4 separate regions of the Homo sapiens genome follow, and all the other regions are linked to region 1. The links come from fine-mapping of genetic effects on gene expression. A gene starts in region 1. Each other region holds a variant in brackets. All regions are shown on one strand. Distances are between the middles of the regions. Region 1 holds the start of FAM114A1 (family with sequence similarity 114 member A1). Region 2 overlaps FAM114A1 (family with sequence similarity 114 member A1). Region 3 overlaps FAM114A1 (family with sequence similarity 114 member A1). Region 4 overlaps TLR6 (toll like receptor 6).

The links.
Region 2: its variant is fine-mapped to the expression of FAM114A1 in testis (GTEx, PIP above 0.99). The same link has a PIP of 0.9 or more in atrial appendage, breast, caudate, gastroesophageal junction, lung and ovary.
Region 3: its variant is fine-mapped to the expression of FAM114A1 in whole blood (TOPMed, PIP 0.94).
Region 4: its variant is fine-mapped to the expression of FAM114A1 in whole blood (TOPMed, PIP above 0.99).

The regions. Positions count from the first base shown.
Region 1 is chr4:38,864,329-38,870,498 of GRCh38, forward strand. It overlaps FAM114A1 (family with sequence similarity 114 member A1), which reads left to right and starts at 3,478. Exons shown (of 15, transcript NM_138389.4): 1 at 3,478-3,506; 2 at 4,070-4,218. MIR574 (microRNA 574) reads left to right here and starts at 3,704; the gene lies at 3,704-3,799. It also overlaps a transcript of TLR6 not described here. RefSeq lists silencers at 3,242-3,721, 3,772-3,821 and an enhancer at 4,029-4,612.
Region 2 is chr4:38,907,414-38,913,583 of GRCh38, forward strand. It overlaps FAM114A1 (family with sequence similarity 114 member A1), which reads left to right. Exons shown (of 15, transcript NM_138389.4): 7 at 1,179-1,313. Among named protein-coding and RNA genes, the nearest start is that of MIR574, 42 kb to the left of the region's middle. The variant A/G (reference allele first, on the strand shown) is at 3,450.
Region 3 is chr4:38,890,197-38,896,366 of GRCh38, forward strand. It overlaps FAM114A1 (family with sequence similarity 114 member A1), which reads left to right. Exons shown (of 15, transcript NM_138389.4): 4 at 1,547-1,634. Among named protein-coding and RNA genes, the nearest start is that of MIR574, 25 kb to the left of the region's middle. RefSeq lists an enhancer at 747-916. The variant T/G (reference allele first, on the strand shown) is at 3,212.
Region 4 is chr4:38,834,687-38,840,856 of GRCh38, forward strand. All of the region lies in intron 1 of TLR6 (toll like receptor 6), which reads right to left. Among named protein-coding and RNA genes, the nearest start is that of TLR6, 19 kb to the right of the region's middle. The variant CA/C (reference allele first, on the strand shown) is at 3,036.

The DNA of each region.
Region 1 (6,170 bases):
ATGCTTTCAGAAAGGTTATGTTGAATAAATGGTTGACCCATAATGAAGGGCGACTCAGCAATGTCTAGTAAAGGGGAACCAGCTATTCCATTTTTTTCCTAGATACTAAAAAATATATTCAAAGGTGGCAATTGTAGCATTATATGTAATTGAGTGAAATATGAAGCACAATAAAGTAGATCAATCGGGAAATAAATTGTGGCATATTCATGCCCTCCTATGAAGACTTTGAAATGAATGTGCTAGAGCTACATGTGTGAATATGAATGATTCTCAAAAATATAATGCAAGTTAACAAGTGTACAGGATGTCCTTAATATTCTAAAACATTGAAAAACAATTATACGTGCATTTGTGGGTGAGGACATATGCAGCAAACATTTAGAAATATGAGTGAGGGGGGCTGTGCATGGTGGCTCACACCTGTAGTCCCAGTACTTTAGGAGGCTGAGGCGGGAGGATTGCTTAAAGCCAGGAGTTTGAGACCAGCCTGGGCAACACAGCAAGACCACGACTCTACAAAAAAATTTAAAAATTTGCTGGGTGCAGTGGCACCCTGTGATCCTAGCTCCTTGTGAGGCTGAGGCAGGAGGATTGCTGGAGCCCAGGAGTCTGAGGCCGCACTGAGCCGTCATCACACCACTGCACTCCAGCCTAGGTGACAGAGTAAGACCTCATTCCTAAATAAGAAAGAAAGAAATATGGGTGGGAGGGATATACAACCACCTCAAGAAAATGGCTACCTGCAGAGATGGTGGACAATGGAAGGGATAGGGTTTCAAACATATCCGTAACATTTTTTTCTTTGCAAAGAAAATTCTAAAATAAATACTGCAAAAAATTTTGTTAAATCTAGATATCATCATAGTATTTCCTATATTTTTTACACAAATAAGTATTTGTCATATTATTCTTTACTTTTCTATATATTTTAAATACTCCAGAAAATTTTTAAATGAACTTAAAATGTTTTACATTGCAAATAAATAAAATATCTGAAATAAAATCTGGTAGTCCTGGAAGCAGCTACATGAGTAAAAGGGACAAATTTGCAGTGGGCAAAACAAAAAACAAACTTGTTGCCAGGATAGTTTGCTTTATTTTCTTTATTGGATAGGTGTGGTTTGGGTCAAAGGAGAAGAGGAACTCAGCCCTTTAAAAAGAGAACATCTGATTGGGCTGTTACGGCACAGCAGGGAAGGGAAGGCAGGTTAGCAAAGGTGCTTGCTGTCTCTGGGCAGGAGCAGAAGTCCCAGGCACAGACGTCTGTGTATATGCTACACCAAAACACACCTGTTGCAACTGGAACATAATTTGATAACACTCGCAAAGCCAGAACTGGAAGGGACTGTGCCGAGCAATGCTCTTTATTTTAGAGGTGGAAAAACTGAGTTACAGAAGCCACGTGTTAGTTAAGGTTCAAAGTCTCGCTCAATTCAAAAAGGCTATTGATCTCAATTTAAAGCAGTTTCCACCCACTCTCACATTAAGATAACTTTCTGGTTTTTCTATGAATTTAAAAATGACAGGCTGGGTGTGGTGGCTCACGCCTGTAATCCCAACACTTTGGGAGGCCGAGGTGGGCAGATCACTTGAGGTCAGGAGTTCGAGACCAGCCTTGCCACCATGGCAAAACCCTGTCTCTACTGAAAACACAAAAATTAGCCGGGTGTGGTGGCACGCACCTGTAATCCCAGCTACTCAAGAGGCTGAGGCAGAAGAATCGCTTGAACCCAGGAGATGGAGATGGTGCCACTGCACTGCAGCCTAGGCCACAGATCAAGACTCTGTCCTCCTAAAAAATAAAATAAAATAAATATTCAGTAGCTTAAAAAATTATTAATATAAAAATATTTAATAAAAATATTAAATAAGAAATATAGCCAGGCACGGTGGCTCATGCCTGTAATCCCAGCACTTTGGGAGGCCGAGGTGGGTGGATCACCTGAGGTCAGGAGTTCGAGACCAGCCTGGCCAACATGGTGAAACCCCGTCTCTACTAAAAAATACAAAAATTAGCCGGGTGTGGTGGCACGCACCTGTAATCCCAGCTACTCAAGAGGCTGAGGCAGGAGAATTGCTTGAACCCAGTAAGCAGAGGCTGCAGTGAGCTGAGATCACGCCACTGCTTTCCAGCCTGGACGACAGAGCAAGACTCCATCTCAAAAAAATGAATTAATAAATTAATTAATATATATATGGAAGAAACTGGAATATAAGGAGCAAACTAATTGTCAATAGGAGAATGATTGAATGAAATATAATTACAAACATATTGCAATATATAAGACAAGTCTTAGAAGAGTGGTTTTGGTTGATATGTATTGACCAAGAAAGATGATTATAATATATAATAAATAGGGGGAAATTTACAAAATACGTCAACATCTCGCCATTTTTATAAAAAAGCAAACAAAAAGCTGTTTATGCATACATGTATTTATATAAGCTTAGAAAAACTATGGTAGGATCCACACACTATAAAAAATGGTAGTGATATTGAAAGGGAGAGACTAGGGCTATTTTTTCTTTAACTTTGAATTTATAATTCTTCAAAAAGAAGAAGGGATGGAGTGAGAGAGGAGAAAATCTGCCTTAAACACATCGCTCAGAAAGAATCACTATTTTTAAATTGTATTTCCTCCGACTTTTATAGAAAATACAAAATTGTTTACAAAACTAGTTAATACTATAAACACTGCGCTTCCTCCGCATCTGAGTTCATATTAAGCCATATTTGAGGAAGGCCTTCATATGTGGCCTTCCCTCCATGTCAACGAATCCTCATTTTTAAGGGCTACAACATATTCGATGTCTGAAGTTACTGTAGCTTACTTCACCAATCTTACTGGGGGACATTGAGATTGTCTCCGGCTTCCCCCCGCAGAAACAACTACAACAAACATCCTTGTACATACATATTTGCCCATTTGACTGCCTACTTAGGACAAATTCACAAATGTGGAATTCCTAGGCCAAAGCTAATACATCGGAGTTTTAACCCACAGCTCCAAACTGGCCTTCTGGAAAGTGGGTTTTCGTTGTTTGTTTGGGGTTTGTTTGTTTTAAATCTATCACACTCCCACCGACAGGGCAAGGGAGTGCTGCTTAACGCAGAATCAGGAGATCAAACTTTAGCTGAATTTGAGCGACCTCTTCCCAGTGACACGGCGGGGGGTTTTCCAAGCCCTTTTAAGGAAAGGAAAGGGATCTGGCGAACCCCGAGACCCACCCGCCCTGGGCTGGAGAGGCGGCGCGCTCTGGCTTTCCGCGCTGGCACAGGGGTGGGACAAGCCAAGTTTCCAGGAGACTCGCCCAGCGCGGGCCCGGCCCTCGCAGCGTGGGGGTGGCCGGGCGTCCCCGCGGCGCTCCTCGTGGGGCGGGGCGCAGGCGGGGCGGGGCCCCCTCTCCAGCCGCCCGCCCTCCGGCCGCGTCCCCGCCGGCCCTGCAGACGTGGCGGGGCGGGACCCGCTGGGCACTCCCGCGCGTACTCGGCCGCCTGAGCGGTAAGAGCCCCGGGCACTCGGTCCCCATCCCCTTCCCCGGGGGGCGGGCGAGCGCGGGGGCGGCTGCCCGGGGGTGGTGGGAACACCATACCTTGGCGCCTCGTCCGGGACCCACGAATCCTGCCCTCTGCGTTAGTGAGAAGCAGTGGTCAGGGAGGACCCGGCTCTGGGGTGAGGGTCTGGGGCGGCGCGGCCGAGGGACCTGCGTGGGTGCGGGCGTGTGAGTGTGTGTGTGTGAGTGTGTGTCGCTCCGGGTCCACGCTCATGCACACACCCACACGCCCACACTCAGGGTCTGCCCCCTCGGCCTGCGTGAACCTCCGCGGAGCCTGCCTGGATCTCCCAAAGTATCCAGTCCTGGCACCAAGCAAGTCTGGAAAAGTGCCCCCAATGGCTCGGGGCCAAGTCAGAGGTGGGCTGCAGGGTCCCCCAGCCCGGGCACGAAGGGAGCAGGTCCCTGTAAGACAGAGGCCTCGTCCCAGGGTGCGCCTGCCCTCGGCCTTGGCACAGGGAGCTCAGGCCTTGACCTCCCCGCTCCCCTCGCCTTACTCCTCCCCCAACAGCCGACCCACGCCCTGCCTGCTCTTCCAGTCCAGCCAACACTCTAAGCAGGCACCGCCTCCACTCGCAGCCCCCGGGATGGGTCCCACTCCCTACCGCAGATCCCCAGGCCCCCTCCACCCAGTCGGCTAGCCCTCGCCTCTGCCATCCGGTGAGTATTTCCAGGCACCTCAGACCAGGCGCCTGAACGTCACTGCCTTTTCTTAAGTAGGAAGACATCTCTCTATGGGCTGTGAGAGCATTACCTATGCCCTACTGATCCCATCATTTCCCATCCTAAACATCTTGAAGGACACAGGCAGGTGGCTTCTTAAATCAGTGTGCTCTGAACTCCCTGTGACCTCAGCCAACCTGTGACAACTGAGAATGAGACAGGCTCTATCCTCAGAGCCTCTTTTTGCCCTCTCTGCAGCCTAGTGGCTCCTTCCCTACCCCACCCATAGGCCTGCGTCCCCGCCCTCCTTTCTTCCATCAAGCCTGAGCTTGGGAAAGAATCTGATAAACTTCTTACATTGTAACCTTTAAGTGAAGGAATGAGACGTTAGGGATGGATTTGAGGCACAAGTGAGACAGTGCAGAAGGAATTTGAGGGTTGGAGGGGGCTTTCTTGAATCTGAGCGATTCAGACCATAAAAGTAAACTTGTCTTTGTTTATTTGACCAGGCTTACATCAAACATGGTTTCTCTTTTATTAATATCAAACACAATGTATTTCAATTCAGTAAATATCTGAGGGACAGAAACCAACCTAGGTGCTGTTGGTCACAGTCTTGGAGGACAGAATGGCAGAAGTAAATACTCCATAAATACATGGAATAGAAATCTGTGCAAAGTGCCAAAAACATAGAAGAGGTAGCAGTTATTTCATTGGAAGCAGTGGGGCAGATTAAGGAAAAATTCAGAATGAAAGGTAACATTAGACACTGGGTGTCTAGAGGAATAGGAGTTTGCCAGGCAGCTGGAGGAAGGGCAGCACCGGGGCAGAGGAACCAGCGTAAGCAAAGGCAGGGAGATGTGAAGAGTTATGGGGAATGGAGAAAAGACTGGTGAGGCAGGAGTGGAGGATACTGAGAGTTGCAAGAGGTGGAGAGAGATTGGAGCTGGATTATGATGGGAAGTGTGAAGATATTTACACCTAATGGTTTTTGAACAGGAGAGCAAATAGGTCCAAAAATGCCTGGCAGCCTCACAGAGAATAGGCTGGAGCCTGGGTACGTAGACTTGTCAAGCTTTATACAAACTCATACAAACTGCTACAACCTGATTAAGAGCCTCTCATCCAGAGTTTTTATTCCTGGTCCTTCGCTGACTGGCACTGTTTTTGTTTTTTTTTTTTAACTGGGGGAGATGACCTCACACAGGATATCATGCTAACCAAATTTTTATGCTGCCAAGTCAGGCCATTTTTTTTAAAAAAATCCATCCACTGTCACTATTTCATAAAATGAAAGACATTTTAATACCAAGAAAAAGCACAAAGGCTAAACTTGAAAGATGAAGGCAGTCCTTTACATTTAATAAATTTAGATTTATGAAAAACTTGCAATCTTGTCCTCATTTTTCTCTATCATCACAGACTTGCCCCAGTCCTGCAGGTGGAGTTTGGAAAAAAAAGCATCCAGATCAGTTTGTCCATCCTAGCTTTACAGAGGAGCAGGTGTAAGCACAGTGAGGATCAAGTTGTGTGCCCACAAAGGGATACTGGGACCAGAGGCCACATCCCTTGACGCCTGCAGGACACAACTCTTTCCACCTCAGAATACCATCGCTCCCACCTCTCATCATTCCTCCATGCAGCCTCATGTCCTGGCCTCTCAGACACCTGTCCTGAATCACTACAGTCCATCGCTGATGCTTGGACATTTGCACATGCTCTCATCCCACCAGGCCTGAATCACCACATCAAAGACACTTTCAAGATTCTCCCTTGCACAGGGTCAGTCTAGTTCAGGCACATCTGTCCTTGATTTGCTGTGCTGTTTTGCATCACTTTTTAACTGTTTTGTGTTAGCTCCTCAAACAGATGATTGATTTCTGAAGGATAGTGACCATGTCTTCTGTTTTATACTTATTTTTGGAGCTGTGATGTTGCTGCTTAAATAC
Region 2 (6,170 bases), 43 kb after region 1:
CAGACACTACCCCTCCAAGTCTATCCTTAACACAAATCCCTGTGTCCTTTCTTCCACCATTTTATTCTCAATAAAATAATTTTTCATAGGATGTTAGCAGGCACTAAGTCAAATTACACAGAAGTGTGAATTGCTGCTGTCCCATCATCCCCCCGAAGTGTGCGCACTGAAAACTGATTTACAGCATGATTACTGGTTGGCTCCCAAATCTAAAAACAAAGTCTAAATACCCAAGATGAAAATAAAGTATATTAATTCTATGAAATTAAATACTTCTATTTAAATGATAATTATGAAGATTGGAAAATGCATATCAGTAATAATATCATAATAAAATACAATTTATATCATTTTTATATATGGTGGGGAAAAACACAGATGTATGCATATTATAATTGCAGTTATACAGTTGGAGTGTAAGTATGAAAGAGTTGCAAAGACATGTATGCAGTTCTGTTCACTTGAATAGTTTATGTGTGAGTAAGTCTGGGTTATTTTAATTTTTTAAAAAAAGCAACAATGACTGACAAAGGGATTTGCAGGAGGATAGCTATATAATACACCAGTTTCTAAAGCCAGAAGTACAAGGAAATCAACCTGTCTCATTTCATGGATATACTAATTATAGGCAGTTATTGCTAGTTTCTGAGAGTATGCAAGAACCATCTGAAACAGCCTGAGGGTCTTACCCTCCAGGGCCCTAGATTAAAGAATTCCCTAAATTAGCAGGACTGTTTGACATTTTAATAGACTGCTCCAAGCAACTCTGTTACTTGGGTTAAAAAAATTTTTAAACAGAAACAGCAATTTATTTTATGTTAATTTTATGTCTTAGCAATTTATTTTATGTTAATTTTATGTCTTAGATACACATCCATTCATACACAGAGAGCCAGTAAAATTAATCCCTTTGTGGGATTAATTTTATTTTATGTGCTTTGGTTTTTTTCTAAGCATCAGTCTTTAATAACATTGTATGTCCTACAAATTATATAACATATGCTTTTCCAAGGAAACGAGAATAGGATTAAATGGATGATAAATCTCCTGATGAGAAAAAATTGTGACTTTATATTGATTTTAATATTTGAAGATAGTGCCAGTTACCTAGGAGTTGCTGACTGCTGCGAAACAGCAAAACCTAAACATCTAATCTCATGCAGTTATCTCATCTGCAGGGTAAAAGTGTCTTAACTGGAGGCCTTGATGCGTTGGAATTCATCGGCAAGAAAACCATGAATGTCCTTGCAGAAAGTGACCCGGGCTTTAAGCGGACCAAGACGCTCATGGAGAGAACTGTTTCCTTGTCTCAGGTTGGATTATATACGTTTGCAATTTTTTCTTTCAGTCAATAAAGTAAATAAATTTTTTATTTATCTTTTTGAATAGCTCATTTAAAGCATGTGATTCAAATCAAATGACACCAAAGAGCAGAGAGAGAAAACTGAGCTTCTAATACCCCCATTTCCCCAGTCACTTAATTCCTCAGAGGAGACAACCAGTTAACAGTTCCTTAAGGATTCTATCAGAGACCGCAGAGAGATATGGATATAGATCTATAGATGCAGCTATACATAAATATACAGATGTAAAAGTACATATGTATGCATGTGGATAGACATGCACATAAATACACACATATTTTTTCAACCCAGTGGTAACATACTAAACACACTCTTGTTCCTTGCTTAATTCACTTAATATTATTTCTTGAAGATGATCCATTTATGTCATGGTATGCATCCCATCTCTACCACTTAGTAGCTGAGTGACCTTGGGCAAGTTACTTAGCCCCTCTGTGCCTCAGCTTACTCATCTGTACACTGGGGATAATTTAAATACCTACCAATAACTTTGTTGTGAGGATACGCTGAGTTAGAATAGAACCCAGCTCTTAGTAAGCATTCAGAAATGTTAGTTGTTGTCATTGCCGTTATTATGTGTCGGTATAATAGGTGGAAATGGTATCTCATTGGAATTTTAAATTCTGTTTCTCTTGATATGTGCAAGGATGGTCTTCTCCTCTCACACTTCCAGCACTAAAGTTTTCCAGCCCTTCTTGCAAAACATAAAACAAAGAATTCAATCTGTCTTTGCTTACTTACAATAGTTAAGAAAATTGGAAATAATATTAGTCTTGTTTTCCAAATATGACTCTAATATTAAACTTACTTTTCCAGATGGAACATGCCTAGCTTACCCCACAATCCAGGCATGCCCCAGTCCACCTCCTCCACGAGAGACTGATACACCAGGTCTCTGTGCTTTCCTGAAATCAGAAGCAGCTGATGCAGCAGTGGATTTTGTAAACGTCACAGGCAGGACTTGGTACTAGGAACCCATGAAGGTTGCCTTCATGAACAGCTATCACTGAGAATATGTTCATGGCAACCCCTAGAAGCTTTTGTTTTAGGCTATTTCTTCTTGTCTCTTCTGGAATAACCCAAGTATGAGCACTCCGATGTTATAGTCCAGGGAGGGACTTTGCAGGATCATCTAGACCATCACCCTGCTGCTCCTTGAAAAAGAAAATAGATGGCTGGGCACAGTGGCTCATGCCGGTAATCCCAGCACTTTGAGAGGCCGAGGCGGGCAGATCACCTGAGGTCAGGAGTTCGAGACCAGCCTGGCCAAGATGGTGAAACCCTGTCTTTACTAAAAATACAAAAAAAAAAATTAGCCGGATGTGGTGGCGAGCACCTGTAATCCCAGCTACTCGGGAGGCTGAGGCAGGGGAATTGCTTGAACCAGGGAGGTGGTGATTACAGTGAGCCGAGATTGTGCCACTGCACTCTAGCCTGGGCAATAAAGCAGGACTGCATCTCAAAAAAAAAAAAGAAGAGAAAGGAAAATAGATTAGTATTAGTTAGGTAATTAGCACTAGATGTCATGAAAGAACAACCACCCCTAAGTATCAGTGTGGCTTAGAACAAAAAGGTTTACCTTTCGCTCTCACAAAGTGCAGCATGAATATTCCTGCTCACACAGGAGCTCGTCCCAGGGGGCTCTCATGGCTAGCACACTTCTGAGCCCACATCTTCTGGCCTCATCATCTTGAAATGCCTTACTTCCAGCCTCACAGAGAGGGGATGTGGAAGGCAATATCTGGTATTTCAGAAAGTGACGAGCGAGTGCCATGGGGAAAAAGACAAAGTAGAACAGGAAGAGGTGATGAGGAATCAGAAATGTGGGTGTGAGGGGCAGGCTGAGTGTTAAGTAGGATAGTGAGGGGGCCTTGGGCAGATGATGACATGTGAGCAAATCCTTGAAGGAGATGAGAGCATTGGCCATGCAGGAACCTGAGTAAAGCTCATTCCAGGCCAAGGGAGAACTCACGCAAAGGCCCTGAGTCAGGAGTGTCTGGCATGAACACAGAACAGCAGGATGCCCGTGATGGAGAGGAGTGGGCTCCGGGCGAGAGCTGTTGAGGAGGACATCAGAGTGGTGAT[A/G]GGGAGTAGGTGATAGCAGATCATGGCAGACATTCGTAAGGACCTTGGGTTTGACTGTTAGTGAAATGGGGAAACCATTGCAGCATTTTGAGAAAAGAAGTGACAGAATCTGATTTGTGCTTTAACAGGACCACTCTGGTTCCTGGGTAGAAAATTGGCTGGGAGGACCAAGGGCAGGGAGACTGGTTAGAGTGACTATCAGTCTGTGCCCTCCCAGAAACAGACACCAAGATGGGCTTAAACATGCAAGGATTTCATTAGGGGAAGTGCTTGTGTGAGAGAAAATGGGGAGGGAGCCCAGGAAGGCTGGGAGAACCATTAGACCAGGATGCCGGTCCCACCCCAGTGAAGAGAAGAGGGTGAGAAAAATGGGTGAAAGTGTCCCAGACTGCAGTGCGGCATGGGAAAGGCTGGGCGAAGCCATGGGAAAGCCCTTCAGCCAAAGGCTGCTGACAAAGGAGACCTCATCTTCCAGGAACAGGTCTGCCTTAGTGCCCTGCTGCACCAGTGATTGACAGGGAAGAGCTGTGGGAGGCTGAAGGCTGGATTTCGAAGTCCAGCATTTATGCTCCCAGGAGTAGGAGGGAGGTCTGCAGGTTGCACTGTCACACCCTCCACTGGAGGCAATTGCACTTTCAATTGCTGTTATCTAAACAAGAGATAATGGTGGCCCTGTGCAGCATGGAGGCCTTGTAGGTAGTGAGGAATGGCTGATTCTGGCTATAATTTGAAGATAGATCCAGATCGCTTGTTGGAATGAATGTGAGCTGTGAGATAAAAGCAGTTGTCAGGGATGGCTCCAAGGTCTTTCGGACAACTGGAAGGATGAAGCTCACATATTTTTCCTTTACACACTAAAGAAATATATAACTATGGAAACTAGAAGCGTGCACGCGTGCACTACCTACATTTCTCACGTATTTTTATCCTAGTGGCACAGGGAATACTCTTTCTTTTTCTTTCTTTCTTCTTTTTTTTTTTCTTTTTTTTTCTTTTTTCTTTTTTTTTTTTTTTTTGAGACAGAGCCCTCACTCTGTCGCCCAGGATGGAGTGCAGTGGCGCGATCTTGACTCACTGCAACCTCCGCCTCCTGGGTTCAAGCAATTCCCCTGCCTCAGCCTCCTGAGTAGCTGGGATTACAGTGTGCACCACCACGCCCGGCTAATTTTTGTATTTTTAGTAGAGACGGGGTTTCACCATGTTGGCCAGGCTGGTCCCGAACTCCTGACCTCAAGTGATCCACCCTATTTGGCCTTGAAAAGTGCTGAGAGTACAGGCATGAGCCACCGCACCCAGCCAAGCGCAGGGAATACTCTTTAAATAACACGGGGACAGGGGGTCCTTGGATTCCACACATGGAAGTCTCCATAGCTTCTCTGTGTCAGGAATTCTTCCAGGCCAGGATCATTCCCTGCTATTGAAACCCACTTCCCTTTCTTCTCTAGTGGGAAAATAGAACCAGCCTCCGTTGTCAAGCTGGTTATCCCTCAGGCAGCTTTAATTTCACTCCCCAGTTGTGTTTTGTTTGTTTGTTTGTTTTGAGATGGAGTCTCACTCTGTCACCCAGGCTGGAGTGCAATGGCGCAATCTTGGCTCACTGCAACCTCCTCCTCTTGGCTTCAAGTGATTCTCCTGCCTCCCTCCTGAATAGCTGGGATTACAGGTGCCCGCCACCATGCCCAGCTAATTTTTTGAATTTTTAGTAGAGACAGGGTTTCATCATATTGGCCAGGCTGGTCTTGAACTCCTGACCTAGTGATCGGCCCACCTTGGCCTCCCAAAGTGCTGGGATTACAGGCGTGAGCCACCGCGCCTGGCCTACTCCCCAGTTTTGAGTGAGTCCACATCTTTCCAGAGTGACCCTTTCCCTTTCTCTTCAATTTCATCCCTTCTTTTTTCTCTCCCGAAGCCCACATTCGGAGGTGGAAGCTGGTGTAGAGAAAGGAAGTGATTTCAGTGTCACTTTGTTATTTTATTTTACCACCACCAAGTCCTGAGATCAGTGCGGGTAATTAGTTTTTATTGCCAGTGTTAAAATTTTCCAGTGATGGTTTCATTGGGTTGTTTGAAAAACTTTAAGATTCAGAGTCTGTGCTAATTTAGTCTTAAAGACAGACAGGAGAGAGAATTCTCTTTGCGGCCCTGTGGGTTCTTGGCAGATAACCTCGAGAACCCAGAAGGAAATAAGGCTGATTGTTTTTCTGGCACACAATAAAAACCAAAGTCTATTCTTCAGTTGTCTTCCCCTGTGACCTTGTGGTGGTGGCCAGTGTCTTTACAGTGCTTTCCACAGAAATTAAAGAACCCCATACACGTAATGCCTCAGTAAACTTAATGAGGAATCACATAAAAGATGCTTAGAATCAAAAACGCAAGTGCAGAAAATTGAGAGTGACTGATGGACTTGTGTTTATTTGTTGTCTTTTTGCTTAACCAACAAAAAATAACTGGAGAAAAGTTATTAATGGGGAGAGGAAACTTGGTTCACAGTCATATTTCTGGAAACCAGACTTAAGAATCTATAAGCTAATGTTCTTTTTTGTTTTTTTGTTTTGAGACCAAGTCTCACTCTGTTGCCCAGGCTGGAGTGCAACGGCGCAGTCTCGGCTCACTGCGCCTCCGGGTTCAACCTCCGCCTCTCCTGCCTCAGCCTCCTGAGTAGCTGGGATTACAGGCATGCACCACCATGCCCGGCTAATTTTTGTATTTTTAGTAGATACG
Region 3 (6,170 bases), 26 kb after region 1:
GATCAAGACCATCCTGGCCAAAATGGTGAAACCTCGTCTCTACTAAAATAGAAAAAATCAGCCAGGCGTGGTGGTGCGCAACTGTAGTCTCAGCTACTTGGGAGGCTGAGGCAGGAGAATGGCGTGAACCCGGGAGGTGGAGCTTGCAGTGAGCTGAGATCGCACCACTGCACTCCAGCCTGGTGACAGAGCAAGACTCCGTCTCAAAAAAAAAAACAAAAAAAAACAGCAAGGGAGTTGGGAGTTGGGGATGACTAATGGACCAGCTGTGAGTCAAAAGTTATGGAATCTACAAACTCTGTAGGAATTTTCCACTGCCTCCTTACTTTCTTTCTGCCCGCCCTTCCTTCTTTCCTTCCTTCCTTCTTCTCTTTTGAGTAAAAAAGAGCTATGATTCTCCATACAGGTAACTCATAGAATATTTATTCTTGCCTTGTTTTCTAGAATGTGTTCCCAGATAGAAAGAGAAAGCTGTGGTTCCCTACTTGAGTTAGGACTCATTGGTTGCAAGTAACAGAAACACGCATACCTGAGAAAATGGATGAGTTTCAGCCATTTATTCAACAAATATTTATTAAGCATTCATTATATTCCAAGCACTCTTCTAAGCTCTGAGAGTATATCAGTGAATAAAACATTTAAAAAAATGAACAAGAATATGAGAGAATCTCATAGAACCCAAAGATCAGAAAGCAGCAGGGCCTTCAGAGGGACAGAAACCAGGGACTGAGAAGCTGTCAGGAATCCAAACAGCAGCTCTAAGCCAGTCTCCATTCTGCTCACTCTGCCTTCTCTTAATTCTTAGTCTGCGTGGTGGATATAACAGGGTCATCCACATAGCCTGAGTTTTCAACTTCTGTTCATGCACACAGTTCACACTGAACCACAGTCTCTCAGTTCCAATTCCAAAAACCTAGGCAAACGAATTGGAATCCACTGAGGTCAGGGACAGTCTTATCCCTGTGTTATAGGAGTCACTATGAGTGAAGCAGGGCACCTTGAATCAAAGGTTTCTACCTTGCAAGCCTTCCTGTCACTACTGCCCATCCATCGCCAGGTGTATTGACGCTTTTTAGACACTTTGCCCATCATCCATGCCAAAGCACCTGCCTACTGCCCCAGAGTTTAAAAGTTAACTCTACCTTGAAGAGCACATTTTTTAAGCCCTGTAAGAATTGCCTGGGTCCAGATCATTTTGAACTTTTTCAAATCCCTCTTGTGCCCTCATGCGTATCTTTTTCCCATGCAGCCTTTTCCCTGTCTTCTAAATAATAAGAGAGAATCGAGGCTCAGTTAACATCAAACTCCCTTCTCACTTCAAACCAAGCCTTCAGAAGCCAACATCAGCACTAATCAATTTGGTTCCAAAGTACACATTGCAGTGTGGTTTGGGATATTCTTTTATGACCCTTATAAACTATAAGCCAATTAGATACGGTTGTTGGTGATTCTTTTCCAAACCTCCTCTTTGTTTCAAACCAATAGGTGTTTTTCCATTCAGAGATATACTGAATTTCTGACCTGTGGCTAATTTGTTTTTCTCCAGGCTGTGGATTCCCCTCCAAGTGGAGGAGGATGGGCAGGCTGGGGATCCTGGGGCAAATCTCTGCTGTCGTCAGCATCTGCCACAGTAGGTAAGCATTGTATGTTGCATTGGAATAGACAAAGTACCAAAGCCTAATAGGATAGGACGTTTTGATCGTACTGTATACTAATAGAGTTTAACATTAGCCCGTGAGCAAACCATGTTTAGTGCTTACTATTCTAAGTGCTTCATTTATTCCTCCAATACATTTGTTCCTCAAAATAACCCTATATGGAGGAACTGTTGTTTGCTGCACTTTACAGGTAAGGAAGCTAATCAGAGAGAGACTAAGACCTTGACCAAAGTCAGGAATGTCTGGGTTGCAATTTAAAAGCCAAGTAGTATGGCTTTTAGCCACTATATTATATGGTCTTTTAAAGTATAATATATTCTTAAAGCTTCGTGTTTATCGTCCCACTTGAATTTTTTTAGTGCACAACGCATCTACTCCCAAAAAGGATTTGAGATATCTTGATAAAAGGCATTTCATTAGCAGGATATTACAATATAAGGAGAAAACAATGTGCTGGTAGGGAGGATACATATTTTATACATCCCATGGCTAATAGAGTTTTTGTAATTGAGTATTGACCTCAACTCTGAGCTTCTTGGCTGCCAGTACATTATTTATTTCTCTTTGAAAACAAAATTTTAATTTAAATAAATATATTTTTCTGGTTTTAAATTTTTAAAGAAATTTCCTGTATTTGTTCTTATACAAAGAGAAAATATGATGGACAGTGTAGTGTCTTCCTGAGTGCAAATTTGTCATGATATTCTTCATGTTACCATTTCTTATATTCTCTCTTCATGAGAACTGAAGGTATAACATCAATATGTCTAAGATAATTTAGCAAAGGCATTTCATCTTGAAGGTGGAAGATAAGAAGATAGGGGAAGCCACAGGTAACAGAGTTTTCACATCATCCACTTCAGGTATTCTAAGGTGCAGTCCATGGCCATGAGGACCTTGCGATAGGCCATGAATTGGTCCACTTCACTGTTACTCCTAAAACCAGGAAGGTCTTCAGGCCTTTTGCCCCACCCCAGTGGACCATGACCACAGTGTTAAGGGCCAGATATCTAACTTGACAGAGCTTAGGCTGCCTGGAAGAATGGATAGATTGCATTCCTCTAATTCCATCTCTGTCAAATATCAGTTTGCTCAGGAAGGCTCTGGGAAGAAGTAGCAATGGCCAAATAAATGTTGACCTCTCTGGTAAGCCTGGAGAGCAGATTTTCTCTATTGCTTATTAAGGGGATGGCTATGCCTTGAGTACCACATATGCAGATGACAAATTTAACTAAATTCAAGTAGAGGCGCCTGTTTTGTTTTCTGAACAGGATGCTATCTCTTCACAAGGGTGAGGACAAGCACCTGCAGGCATCCTCTGTCCTTGGAAAAATGTTTGAACTTAGTGGCTATCAAAAGGATCTTGCCACTGGTGGCACTTAGAAGTGACATGCTTTCTAAGCCAAAAACTAAAAAGGAGGTTCTAAAAGATTGTTTTAATTGGAATAAGTCATGAAAAAGTAAATAATATGGTCACTAAAATTATACAGCTCTTCTCGTGGTTTATATCATAAAACAGTCATGTGTCCTGGATGTTTCCAGTTTTAACCGCA[T/G]CCAAACCACTCTGGTTTATAATGAATTGGTGGTTCGAGGGTTCTAGTATAGATGGAGGACTTACTCTTTCATTAAACTTTTAAATATAAGTTCCTGCCACAGTAAACACAGAAATCATCTGCTCTGTGGTAGCAGCTATAGGTGCTCTCTGTGCACACTTAAAGGTGCATCTCCCTGTAACTGCTCTAGCCCTGGTTGGTCAGACCATTTGCTGTTGTTTCTCATTCAGTGTCTGTACCTCATTTGACTTTGGGCTTTGTTGGACCCTCCCAAGGTTTTCTGTCCATGAACTGACAGCTCTCCCATTGAATTTACTATCCAGCACCTTCTTAGGTGTCTTGCTATAATCTGACCTTTGCACACATGCAGCTTTGGTTCCAGTGGATGGTGCTCCAAGGCCTCCGGGTTTTGTCACCTGGTTCACATGTAACCAGTAGATGGCGCTGACTTTACTGCTTAAAAAGTGGGATGTGGCCAGGCATGGTGGCTCACGCCTGTAATCCCGGCACTTTGGGAGGCCGAGGTGGATGGATCATTTGAGGTCAGGAGTTCAAGACCAGCCTGGCCAACATGGTGAAAACCCATCTCTACTAAAAATACAAAAATTAGCTGGACGTGGTGGTGGGTGCCTGTAGTCCCAGCTACATGGGAGGCTGAGACAGGAGAATTGCTTGAACCCAGGAGGTGGAGGTTGCAGTGAACAGAGATTACGCCCCTGCACTCCAGCCTGGGCAATAGAATGAGAGTATGTCTCAAAAAAAAAAAAAAAAAAAAAAAAAAGCAGGGTGTGATTTTTCACAGCAGGTCCCTTTTGACTTGATCCGACGTCATTGTCTTAATCTGCGGCCTGTGCTTGTGTTTGGGGTTGCTCTTAAAGTTTCTCTGTGTCTGAGCCACCATGCAGATAATAAATACTGCATCTTGTTACTCTCACAACAATTTATAAATTGTGATGGTTCGCATCTGGCTCTGAGTAATCATTGATCCAGAAGAGCCTAGAGAGGTAAATTCCTGTAGGCCATCATGAGCATTGTGCCAGTCACATGGTCACTGTGCCATGAAAAATAATATCCCGCTTTTTAAGTAGTAATGTCAGCACCATCTACTGGTTATATTTGAACCAAGTAACAAAACCTAGAGGCCTTGGAGCACAGTCCACTGGAACCAAATCTGCACGTATGCAAAGATCAGATTACAAAAGGACACCTAAGAAGATGCTGGATAGTAAATTCAATGGGCGAGCTGTCAGTCCGTGGATGGAAAAACTTGCCACTTTTCTTCTAGGGTGAGTAAACACGTGGTTTCTCTGAGAGTGTATGACATTTGCACATTCCTCATGCAATATCAGAATGAAGTTCAGTATACCCTCTTGTATTAGTTTCTGTTGCTATGTAAGGAATTACCACAGTTAAAGAGGCTGAAAACAACATGCATTCATTATTTTACAGTTTCCGTGGGTCAAGAGTTCAGGTATGGGACAGCTGCTCATGTAAAATAATGTGAGCTTAACAGGCTAAAATCAGGGTGGCAGCCAGCTGTATTCTCATCTGAGGCTCACTTTTACCTGAGGCAGCATGGCCCTGGGGTTGACACTATGCTTGTACATAATGGAAGTTGTTCCTCGCTTGCCTCTCTCAATCCCAAGATAATGGCTCAACATAGACCACAGATCAGGAAGGCACCCATAACTTTAAAGTCTCTGGAGGATAGGGTGGTGCAGCTAGAAGGGGGCCCAGAGTCGAAGATGAGGCCAGTGGCTCTGCCAGCTGCTCAGCTGGCACCTCTGCTTTGAAGACGTCATCTTTCAGGGTCATTCACGTTGTTGGCAGAATTCAGATTTTGAAGTTGTAGGACTGAGGTCCCTGTTTTCCTGCTGATTATTGACCAGGGCTCACTTTCAGCTCTTAGAGGCTGCCCTCAGGTCCTCCTTCAAAGCCAGCAGGAAAATCTCTCTCATGCTTCAAATCGCTACCTTCAGGAAGGGCCCCTTTGTTTTAAAGACGCTCCTGATTAGTTCAGGCGCACTAAGGATGATCTCTCTTTTGAGTCACTGAAATTCAACTGATCAAGGACCTTAATTACATGTGAAAATTCTCCCCATCATTGCTGGATAGAGTAACCTAATCACAGGGGTGAAATCCCATCCTGTTTACACTCCGGCTCACACTCCAAAGGGAAGGGATCACATAGGGTGTATACATCTGGGGACAAGAATCTTGGGGCCGTCTCTCAATACGGTCATGCTTCACTTAACAATGGGAATACCTTCTGAGAAATGGGTCGTTGGGTGATTTAATCATTGTGCAAACCTCCAAAGTATACACAGACCTACACAGCTAGGCTATGTGGTAAAGCCTATTGCGCCGAGGCTGCAAACATAGGACAGCTTATTACTGTACTGAATACTGTAGGCAATTGTAACACAATAATAAGTATTTGTGTATTTCACACATCTAAACATAGAAAAGGCACAGGAAAAATACAGTATTATGATCTTATGGGACCACTGTCATAGATGTGGCCCGTCGTTGACCGTAAGTTTGTCATGTGGTGCATCCCGCCTACCTTAATTCTCTTCTCGTCTCTGTTTGAGATCTTTGTCAGTTACACCACCAATTACAGAACCTTAGTATTTTCTATGGTTCTGGCTACATGCTGGAATTTTGAAAAGCAAGGAAATCTTGGCATTTTTCTCTTGTTTGCATACAAAATGGCAAAGGGTACATGAGGAAAGTCATTAAAATTTTGAAATATTGATGCTCATTCTAAAAGTCCCTTTGGAGAAATTTTAGAGCTGTCTTTAGAAAAGCAGGTACTAAAATTGTTCATCACCACTGATCATCACTACCCACCTCCTCCCCCCAAAATGAATGCAATAGAAGTATAACTGAAAACCCTGCCTAAATTGCTCTTACTGCATATTTTGGAGATTTCTGATGAGGACATGCTGTGACTTTA
Region 4 (6,170 bases), 30 kb before region 1:
ACTAACAGATTTTTCAGCAGAAACTATAGGCCAGGAGAGAATGGGATAATATACTCAAAGTGCTGAAAGAAGAAACTGTCAACCAAGAAGACTATACCCATCAAAGCTGTCCTTCCATAATGAAGAAGAAATATTCTTTCCCAGACAAGCGACAACTGAGGGAATTCATCACCACTAGACGAGCCCTACAAGAAATGCTTAAGAGAGTAGAACGTCTGGACGTGAAAAGATTATATCTACCATTATGAAAACACATGAAAGTATAAAACTCACTAGTAGAGCAAATACATAAATGAAAGAGAAAAGAGTTGAAGTTACTACTACAGAAAACCACCAAAGTTCAATGATAAACAATGAGAGGAAGAAAGGAACAAAGGATATACAAAACAACCAGAAAACAATAAGCCAAATGACAGAAATAAGTCGTTACCTATCAGTGATAACCTTGAATGTAAAAAGATTAACTTCCTCACTTAAAAGATACAAACTAGCTGAATAGATTTTTTTTACTTACCCAACTATATGCTGCCTACAAGACATTCACCCCACCTTCAAAGACACATATAGACTGAAATTGAAGGAAAGGAAAAAGATATTCCTTGCTAATGGAAACCAAAAGCAAGCAAGAATAGCTATACTTATCAGATAAAACAGACTTTAAGTATAAAACTATTAAAAAAGACAAAAAAAGCCATTATATAATGTTAAAGGGATCAATTCATCAAAAGGATATAACAATTCTAAGTATATATGTGCCCCACACAGGAACATCCAGATATATAAAGCAAATATTATTAGATCAAAAGAGAGAGATAGACTCCAATACAATAATGGTTGGGAACTTCAACATCCCACTCTCAGCATTGAACAGATCATTTAGACAGAATATCAGCAAAGAAACATTGGATTTAAACTGCACTTTAGACAAAATGGACCTAACAGATATTTACAGAACATTTCATCTGATAGCTGCAGAGTACACATTCTTCTCATCAGTGCATGGAACATTGTTCAGAATAGACCATATCTTAGGCCACAAAACAAGTTTCAACAAAAGTTTTAAAAATTGAAATCATATCAAGTATTTTCTCAGATCACAATGGAATAAAACTACAAATCAATAACAAGATGAACTTTTGAAACTGTATAAATACATGGAAATTAAACAACATGCTCCTGAACAACCACTGGGTGAATGAAGAAATTAAATAGGAGGTAAAAAAGTTTCTTGAAAAAAATTAAAATGCAAATACAGCACACCAAAGCCTAGGAGACACAGCAAAAACAATGCTAAGATGGAAATTTATAGCAATAAATGCCTACATCAAAAAAGTAGAAAGATTTGAAATAAACAACCTAACAACGAACCTCAAGGAAGCAAGAACAAATAGAAAAGCAAGAACAAACACTTTCAAATGTTAGGAGAAAGAAAGAAATACTAAAGCTCAGAGAACTAAACAAAAGAGATATTTAAAAATAGAAAAGATCAATAAAACAAAAAAATTATTTTTTGAAAAGATAAACAAAACCAATAAACTTTTAGCTAGACTAACCAAGACAAGAAAAGAAAGAAGACCAAAATAAATAAAATCAGAAATAAAAAAGGAGACATTACAACTGATACCACAGAAATATAAAAGATCATTGGAGGCAATTATGAACACCTATATGTTAACAAATTGGAAACCCTACAGGAAATGTATAAATTTCTGGATATATACAACCTACCAAATTTGAGCCTGGAAGAAATAGAAAAATCTGAACAGACCAATAACAAGTAATAAGTTTGAATCAGTAATAAAACATTTCCCAACAAAGAAAATCTCAGGACTGGATGGCTTTACTGCTGAATTTTTAACAAACAATTAACACAAAGTTTTCTCAAACTATTCAAAAAAATTAAAGATGAAGGTATTCCTCCTAACTCATTCTACAAAGCCAGCATTTTCCTGATACCAAAACCAGACAAGGACTGGGTGTGGTGACTCACACCTGTAATCCCAGAACTTTGGGAGGCTGAGGTGGGCAGATCACCTGAGGTCAGGAGTTCAAGACAAGCCTGGCCAACATGGTGAAACCTTATCTCTACTAAAAATACAAAAAATTAGCCAGGTGTGTTGGCAGACACCTGGAATCCCAGCTACTCAGGAGGCCGAGGCATGAGAATCACTTGAACCTGGGAGGCAGAGGTTGTAGTGAGCTGAGATTGTGCCACTGCACTCCAGACTGGGTGACAGAGTGAGACTCAGTCTCAAAAAAAAAAAAAAAGAAAAAAGAAATCAAGAAAGCAATCTTATTTGCATAGCTACAAGACAATTACAATACCTAGGAATAAACTTAATCAAGAAGGCAAAAGGCCCCTACAACAAAAACTACAAAATACTGATGAAAGAAATTGAGAACACAAAAAAATGGAAAGACATCCCATGTTCATGGACTGGAAGAATTAACATTGTTAAAATGACCACACTACTCAAAGCAATCTACAGATCCAATGCAATCCCTATCAAAATACCAATGATATTATTTACAGAAATATAAAAAATAATCTCAAAATTCATATGGAACCAGAAAACACCCCAAATAGCCAAATCAGTACTGAGGAAAAGGGGCAAAGCTGAAGGGATCACACTACTTGACTTCAAACGATACTGCAAAGCAAAAGTAGCATGGTATTGGTACAAAAACAGATACATAGACCAATAGAACAGAATACAGAACCCAGAAATTAATCCACATATTTACAGCCAATCAATTTTCAACAAAGATGCCAACAACATACACTGGGGAAAGACCACTCTCTTCAATAAATGGTGCTGGCTTCATATTCACTCATATGTATAAGAATGAAACTAGACCCCTGTAAGAATGAAACTAGACCCCTATCTCTCACCATATACAAAAATCAATTCAAAATGGATTACAGACTTAAATGTAAGACTTGAAAGTATAAAACTACTAAGAGAAAACAGAAGAAATGCTTGAGGACACTGGTCTAGGTAAAGATCTTATGGCTAAAATTTCAAAAGTACAGG[CA/C]ATGAAAATATGAATAGACAAATGGGACTACATTAAACTAAAAACTTCTACACAGCACAGGAAACAATCAACAGGGTGAATAGATAACAGGGTTAAATGGGCGAAAATATTTGCAAACTATTCATCCAATAAAGACTAATAGCCACAATATACAAAGAACTCAAACAACTCAACAGCAAAAATAATAATAATCCTATGAAAAAGTAGGCATAGGATTTGAATAGACATTTCTCAAAAGAAGACGTACAAATGGCCAAGAGTTATATGAAAAAAATGCTCACCATGAATCATCAAGGAAGTGCAAATCAAAACCACAACGAGATATCATCTCATTCTAGTTTAAATGGCTGTCATCAAAAAGACAATAAATAGCAAATGCTGGTGAGAATGCAGAGAAAAGGGAACTCTTATACACTGTTGGTGGGAATGTAAATTAGTACAGCCATTATGGAGAACAGTACAGAGTTGTCTCAAAAAACTAAAAATAGAACTAACATACAATCCAGCAACCCCACTTCTGGATGTTTATCTAAAAGAACAGAAATCAGTGTATCAAAGGGATACCTGCACCTCCATGTTCATTGCAGCACTATCCACAATAGCCAAAATATGGAATCAACTTAACAGTCCATCAACAGATGAATGGATAAATAAAATGTGATATATATACCCGATGGAATACCATTCAGCCATTTAAAATAATTAAATCCTGTCATTTGCAGCAATATGGATGGACCTGGAGGTCATTACATTAGCAAAATAAGCCAGGCACAGAAAGGCAAATATTGTGTTCTCACTCATCTGTGGGAGCTAAAATACGCATCTCAGGAGGGTAGAGAGTAGAACAATAGTTACCAGAGACTAAGAGGTGAGTGAGGGAATGAAGAGAGGTTGGTTAATGGATAAAAACATACAGTTAGATAAAAAGAAAAAGTTCTAGTGTTCAATAACACAGTAGGGTGACTATAGCTAACAATAATTTATTGTATATTTCAAAACAGCTAGAAGAGAAGATCTGAAATGCTCCCCCACCCACACACAAAATGATGTATGTTTGAGATGGTGGATATCCTAAATACCCTGATTTGACACACGGTATGTATGTGTCAAATATTGTAGTTACCCCATAAATATGTATAATTATTTTGTGGGGAAGGAAAGAAGAAAGAAAGAGAAAAAGAGAAGGAAGGAAGGGAGGGAGGGAGGGAAGGAAGGAAGGAAGGGAGGAAGGAAGGAAGGAAGGGGAGGAAGGAAAGAAAGGAGGGAGAGAGGGGGAGAGAGAGAAGGAGAGAGAGAAAGAAAGTTAAGAAAGAGAGAGAAAGAAAGAAAAAGAGAGAAAGAAATAGAAAGAGAGAAAGAGGAAGGAAGGAAGGGAGGGAGGGGAGGCAAAGGGAGGGGAGGAAGGGAGGGAAGGGAGGGAGGGGAGGGAAGGGGGGGAAGATCCTTAAATCCATTTTGCTAGGTGAAAGAAGTCAGTCTGAAAAAGCTAAATACTATTTTATTTCAACTATATGATATTCCAGGAAAGGCAAAACTAAATAGACAAAAAAAAACTGCTCTAAAAAATAAAGTCTATTGATTTTTTTTTAAAAAAAATTAATAGAAATGGAAAAAGCATAGACATTGGACTTACTAGGCAAAGGCTTTAAATCAACTGTATTGAAAGTTAACTACGTGCTGTACTCAAAAAATAGTTATTCTCTTTTAAAGAAGAAGTTCTTTTATCCTTCCCCACCACCAAATATTAGACCAGCCGGTTTGATAATTTAAAAAAGCAGGCAAGAAGCCAGTCCCAAAAACTCCAAGACATACTCAGTAGTTTATACCAGTATCCAGTTTGGCACCAACTCAGCCATCTGCTGCAACCAGTGACCCTTCACGGCTGAAGGGTTAACAAATCCATTTCTCTCTTTCTCCATGGACTGATCTGACCTCAAGTTAACTTCCTAGCCCTATTCTGAAAACCTGAAACATGTAGAAAGTCAGCTGTGTACCAGCCAACATTACTTATTGTAACAATGATCCCTGACTGGTAAATTGCATCCAGGATGAAAGGACTGTGTATGAACTATAAGTACCAGGTAGAAAATTGAGCTTCTGAGTGTGGCCTATTGGGGCATTTGGGTATGAATGTTTAGTTGAGCCTGAGAAACCTCCGATGGGCACTCGACAGTGGTGCCAGTGCTGAGCTAGACTTTCAGCAGTGCTGATTATAATCCCGAAAGACACAATCCTGAAGGCTGAAATCCTAAAAGATCAAAGTCCCCAAAGTCTAAAATCCCTAATGTCCAACTGAATCCTCAAATCATAATGACCTATCACTTGATTTGGAATTAGGTGTGATCAAGGCTTCTAAAAGGGAATTTCAAGGTGTTACCAATAAAGTTTGTTTTCTTCCATTCAGCCCAATGCATTTGTCAGAAAATTCAGTTGAGAGGATTGGCCACATAATGTGGCAATGATGAAAAATTTAGTTTAAAAATACATTATTTGTCTGCACTGGCATTCCTTCTGGCTGATGAAATACCAGGAGTTCTCAATGAATTAAAGTTGCATTTGCCTAAAGCACCCAGTGAAGTTACTGACTGATTTGAAAATAATAATGCATATGGTAGGATAAGAAGACACAGGACTGGCGTGGTGGCTCACACCTGTAATTCCAGCACTTTGGGAGGCTGAGGCCCATGGATCACGAGGTCAGGAGTTCGAGACCTGCCTGGCCAATATGGTGAAACCCCGTCTCTACTAAAAAAATACAAGAATTAGCTGGGCGTGGTGGTGGGTTCCTGTAATCCCAGCTACTTGGGAGGCTGAGGCAGGAGAATTGCTTAAACCCGGGAGGTGGAGGTTGCAATGAGCCGAGATCGCGCCATTACACTCCAGCCTGGGTGACAGGGCAAGACTCCCTCTCAAAAAAAAAAAAAAAAGAAGACACACAATGCTGTTGTTGATTGATCACCAGTATTGTTTCTGCCAAATGTGTGGTCTGTATATGAGTGCATGCAGAATAGATTTTCATGTACCCAAATCAACACAGAAGCACGGCACTGAAGATGAGAACATTTAACAGGAATGCTCATGTTGGTGTAAATATGTAAATAGAAGCAGAGAAGCATTTCCAAACAAGCAGTGCC